Regions from separate parts of the Homo sapiens genome. Here region 2 is linked to region 1. The links come from fine-mapping of genetic effects on gene expression. Tissue or cell type: whole blood. Region 1 holds a variant in brackets; the other region holds the start of a gene. All regions are shown on one strand. Distances are between the middles of the regions. Region 1 has its middle 4.8 kb from the start of GHRL. Region 2 holds the start of SEC13 (SEC13 homolog, nuclear pore and COPII component).

What was found.
Region 2: SEC13 starts here. The variant in region 1 is fine-mapped to the expression of SEC13 in whole blood (INTERVAL, PIP above 0.99).

Annotation. Positions count from the first base shown.
Region 1 is chr3:10,296,257-10,299,161 of GRCh38, reverse strand. No RefSeq gene overlaps it. Among named protein-coding and RNA genes, the nearest start is that of GHRL, 4.8 kb to the right of the region's middle. The variant G/A (reference allele first, on the strand shown) is at 1,709.
Region 2 is chr3:10,319,550-10,322,454 of GRCh38, reverse strand. SEC13 (SEC13 homolog, nuclear pore and COPII component) reads left to right here and starts at 1,343. Exons shown (of 9, transcript NM_183352.3): 1 at 1,343-1,405. The coding sequence starts at 1,403. RefSeq lists a silencer at 1,108-1,187 and enhancers at 1,035-1,630, 1,378-1,677.

The DNA of each region.
Region 1 (2,905 bases):
AAAACTCAGCAAGCCACTGTGAAAACAACTCCCAAAACTAGAAGATTCACAGGCTTCCATTTACAAGTGAGCCCAGAAACACTAAGGGGAGACCTTCCACTTCTGCATATAAAGGATTAACGATTGTAAGAATTTCCCAGCCAACATGGTGGCTCACAACTGTAATCCCACACTTCGAAAGGCCAAGACGGGCGGAATGTTTGAGCCCAGAAATTCAAGACCAGCCTGCCAACATGGCAAAACCCCATCTCTACTAAAAATACAAAAATTAGGTGCAGTGGTGTGTGCCTCTGTAGTGCCAGCTACTCAGGAGGCTGAGGCACAAGAATCGCTTGAGCCCAGGAGGTGGAGGTTGCAGTGAGCCGAGATTGCACCACTGCACTCCAGCCTGGGCAAGAGAGTGAGACTCTGTCTAAAAAAAAAAAAATTTCCCTGGCTGGGCGCAGTGGCCAGCACTTTGGAAGGTTGAGGGAGGAGGATCTCTTGAGCCCAGGAGTTTGAGATCAGCCTGGGCAACACAGCAAGAGCCTGTCTCTTTAATAATAAATAAGAATTTCCCTCACACTATAGACAACTAGGAAATTAATTCAAGATGGATTAAAGACTTAAACGTTAGACCTAAAACCATAAAAACCCTAGAAGAAAACCTAGGCATTACCATTCAGGACATAGGCATGGGCAAGGACTTCATGTCTAAAACACCAAAAGCAATGGCAACAAAAGCCAGAATTGACAAATGGGATCTAATTAAACTAAAGAGCTTCTGCACAGCAAAAGAAACTACCATCAGAGTGAACAGGCAACCTACAAAATGGGAGAAAATTTTCACAACCTACTCATCTGACAAAGGGCTAATATCCAGAATCTACAAAGAACTCAAACAAATTTACAAGAAAAAAACAACCCCATCAAAAAGTGGGCGAAGGACATGAACAGACACTTCTCAAAAGAAGACATTTATGCAGCCAAAAAACACATGAAAAAATGCTCATCATCACTGGCCATCAGAGAAATGCAAATCAAAACCACAATGAGATACCATCTCACACCAGTTAGAATGGCAGTCATTAAAAAGTCAGGAAACAACAGGTGCTGGAGAGGATGTGGAGAAATAGGAACACTTTTACACTGTTGGTGGGACTGTAAACTAGTTCAACCATTGTGGAAGTCAGTGTGGCGATTCCTCAGGGATCTAGAACTAGAAATACCATTTGACCCAGCCATCCCATTACTGGGTATATACCCAAAGGACTATAAATCATGCTGCTATAAAGACACATGCACACGTATGTTTACTGCGGCACTATTCACAATAGCAAAGACTTGGAACCAACCCAAATGTCCAACAATGATAGACTGGATTAAGAAAATGTGGCACATATACACCATGGAATACTATGCAGCCATAAAAAATGATGAGTTCATGTCCTTTGTAGGGACATGGATGAAATTGGAAATCATCATTCTCAGTAAACTATCGCAAGAACAAAAAACCAAACACCGCATATTCTCACTCATAGATGGGAATTGAACAATGAGAACACATGGACACAGGAAGGGGAACATCACACTCTGGGGACTGTTGTGGGGGGAGGGGACGGGGGAGGGATAGCATTAGGAGATATACCTAATGCTAAATGACGAGTTAATGGGTGCAGCACACCAGCATGTCACATGTATACATATGTAACTAACCCACATATTGTGC[G/A]CATGTACCCTAAAACTTAAAGTATAACAATAATAAAATAAAAAAATAAAATAAAATAAAATAATAAATTTAAAAAAAAAACAACAACTAGGAAATCATGAAAAGTACATGAAACAACTACTGCTTTCAGACATAGGACAACAGGCAGTGTTTGGGAAAAGGGAAACAGGTAAGCACAACAAATGCACCAGGTTACTACTACCCAGAAGCAGTTTCTGGGCCAAAAGGTAAAGAGAGACTCCAGAGTCTAGTAGTCTCCAGGAGTTGAAGAGACAGAAGTCAGAGTTCAGGAAGACCAAGGCAGGCCGGGCGCGGTGGCTCACGCTTGTAATCCCAGCACTTTGGGAGGCCAAGGCGGGCAGATCACCTGAGATCAAGAGTTCGAGACCAGCCTGGCCAACATGGTGAAACCCTGTCTCTACTAAAAATACAAAAATTAGCCGGGCGTGGTGTTGCACCCCTGTAATCCCAACTACTCGGGAGGCTGAGGCAGGAGAATTGCTTGAACCAGGGAGGCGGAGGTTGCAGTGAGCAAAGATTACACCACTGCACTCTGCCCTGGGCGAAAGAGCAAGGCTCTGTCTCAAAAAACAAACAAACAAACAAAAAAGACCAAGGCAGAACTGAAGGCAGAAGAGGACGAGAGGAGGAAGCTGCACAGAGCAAGCTCCTGAGAGCTGAAGAGTCTCCTGGAGTCTTTGGACAAGTACTAACCTTCATATATGAAGGGTGAAACCAATAGACCAAGCAGCTGGAGCTCACATAGGGGTGGGAATAGCCCATGTTCCCAGCAACCAGAAAAAAAAGAGACATTCCATCCAGAAGAACAAATATAAGAGTGGCAGCAGGCCAGGCGCCGTGGCTCACGCCTATAATCCCAACACTTTGGAAGGCTGAGGCGGGTGGATCACGAGGTCAGAAGTCCGAGATCAGCCTGACCAAGATGGTGAAACCCCATCCCTACTAAAATTAGCCAGACATGGTGGTAGGTGCCTGTAATCCCAGCTACTCGGGAGGCTGAGGCAGGAGAATTGCTTGAACCCGGGAGGTGGAGGTTGCAGTGAGCCGAAATCACGCCACTGCACCCCAGCCTGGGCGACAGAGCAAGACTCTGTCTCAAAAAAAAAAAAAAAAAAAAAGGAGCAGCAGCCAACTTCTCATCAGAAAGTAGGCAAACCATAAGAAAATTAACATCTT
Region 2 (2,905 bases), 23 kb before region 1:
GCCTGGCCCTTAATTCTAACACCCTACTCCCCTGGCCTCCCCTCCAAAGCTCCTTGACAGTTTGGGTCTATCACATTCTCTGAGCCTTAACATCTTCCTTCAAGCAGTGACCATCTCCAGCTAGGGTCCTTACTCCCAGTTTCAGCAGAGGAAACTGAAGGACTGTGACTTGCCCAAGGGGAGCCAAGGCCTCCCCCAGCTCATCTGCCTCCTTAATGTCACAAGGGGCCCAGGGCTAGACCATATGTGGCTGAGGCGGGGAGCCCAGGCTCTGTCCTCCAGTGTGGCATTCTCACTGCGCTTGTGGGGAGCCTTCAGCTGCCCTACCTTGTGAAGCCAGAGACCTGGGGTTGGGGACCCTGAGGATTAGGTCTGGGGCTCTAGCTGCAGGAGCCTGGCTGAGATCCTTCATTGCCTAGGGGGGTCTCCTTGATGGGACTTACTCAGGACCCCAGGGGATCGGTTTGGAAGGGGCAGTCCTATATAGGGGTTAGGGATGGCAGGGCCAGAGGTCCCAGCCTCTGGCGAGGGGCATTCCCTGGCCTCCTCTGCCCTGGTCCCAGTCCTTGGGTACTGAGAGGGAGACTACAACAAGGAAGCACTAGGACAGTCTACTTACTCCTAAGATGTCACTCATCCTACAACATTCATCATAAGACCAGTCGCACCCAGAGCCGTAGTGAGGCGGGTGAAGCTGCAGATAGATAGATGATAGATAGATAGATAGATAGATAGATAGATAGATAGATAGATAGATAGATTTTTTTCTTTTTTACAAGAGTGTCTCTCTGTTGCCCAGGCTGGAGTGCAATGGTGCAGTCACGGCTCACTGTAACCTCCACCTCCCGGGTTCCAGCGATTCTCCTGCCTCAGCCTGTAGCTGGGACTACAGGCGCGCGCCACTATGCCCGGCTAATTTTTGTATTTTTGGTAGAGACGGGGTTTCACCATGTTGGCCAGGCTGGTCTCGAACTCCTGACCTCAGGTGATCCACCCCCCAGCTCAGCCTCCCAAAGTTCTGGGATTACAGGCATGAGCCACCGCGCCCGGCCGATAGTTATATTAATCCTTTCTTTCATTTATGGATCTCAGGAAAAGGGCAGACTTGGTCGGGAGAGTAGACCCACCAGAGCTTCAGATTCCAAAGCCCTCCGGGTCAGGGTAACTGCGGCAACCAGAGCCCCAGCCCTCTGGTCTCGCACGTCACTGGAGGATAGGGGCTGGGCCACGGGAGGGCGGGGCGCGCCCTCTGGAAGGCGCGGAACTGCTGTGCGAGCCGAGCGCGTTGCTGCCCGGAGGCTCCTACGCCACGGCCCGTCGGGCCCGGCGCCGGAAGTGAGCTGTTCCGAGGCGCCGCCGGGAGCTGCCACGTCCGAGACCTGGAGCAGCCACCGCCGCAATCATGGTGAGTGTTGGTACTGAGGAGGCCTAGCAGGGTGAAGGCCACGGTCGCGGCCTTCACGGGTTCCTCGGCCGTCCTGAGTCCCAAATCCCAAGCTGGAGCCGTTCAGCTCCCCTCCACCGCTTAGAGATTTGGGGGGCTCTGGCCCCGTCCTTGCGGACCATTCCGAGGGGAGTCCAGAGGTGAGGCCGAGGAACCTCCCTGACTTTGCGGGGCGCGCCGCTCCTGCGTCTCCTGCCAGTCTCCCTTCCTTCTTTTCGGTCAACAATTGAAAACAAAACGAGGAACAGCAGAGGAGCTACTGTATACCGAGCCCTCAGCATTGTTCGTAATCTCCGCCTGCTAACAGCCTTGTGAAGAAGGTGCTATTCTTCTCAACACTTTACAGATGAGGACACTTGAGGTTCGGAGACGTGGAGCCTCTTGCACAGCTGCTTAAGTGGTAGTAGAGCCGAGATTTGAACCCTCCTAACCATTCCTTTCTGCCGCCTACTGCAGCTCCCAGCAGAGATGATTGAACTGTTGCTCGGGGTAGGGCCCCCAGGTAGGATGGGCACCTCGGGAAACGTAAAGATGGCCTGAACGACCCTCCGAAGGCAGGGGCTCAGGGTTTTTTAAGTCTCTGTGGCATCTGCAGTGTACATTCACTCCACACTTACTCCTTGAGTGAATGAATGACTGAAGGAGAACTAAAGAATGGAAGTATCTGGGCTGAGCCTGGAATATCTAGTACATGCATTCTTTTAGAAACATGGGTGTGTCTCAGCAGCAGGTTTGAGGGAACCTGCAGGAACCTAGAAATCAGAACACTGTGTTCTTGTTCTGCAGAGGGTTAGGTGTAAATCACTCACCTCTGGCTCTTCCACTGCAGGTTAGAGTTGAGGCTTTTATGCTCTGACATTCAGCTCATCCTAAATGAATTTTTAACTCATTATCTGATCTCAAAGAGGTGAATTATTTTGAGTGCAGGTGTTAACAGGGACCAGATAATACCAGGTCCCTGGGAAGAAGTACTCTAAGAAGTTCTCTCTCTCTCTCTCTCTCTCCCCACCCTCCCTCTCTCCCCACTCCCTCTCCCTCCCCCCTTCCTCTCCCTCTCCCTTTCTCTCTCTCCCCCTCCCTCTCTTCTCTCTCTCTCTCCCCGCTCCCTCTTCCTCCCCCCTTCCTCTCCCTCTCCCTTTCTCTCCCGCCCTTCCTCCTTCCTTCCGTCCTTTTCTCTCCCCCTCCCTCTTTCCTCCCCCCCCCCCCCCCCCGCCTTCTCTCTCTCTCTCTCTCTCTCTCTCTCTCTCTCATTCAGAAGTGTGGTTCATCAACCCTGACTGGTGGGTGAGAGTGGTTAGAATTAAATGCTGATTATTTCTAAGGTCCTTTGGTAACCTGGTTGAAACTACCTCTCAGTAAACTTTCTTCGTGAACCTACTTAACCGCAGCTTTACAGAACTCAGTGTAACAACTGCTTTACATTCTAGACAGGCAGCCTGGTGGAGTGAAGTTTTGTGGACT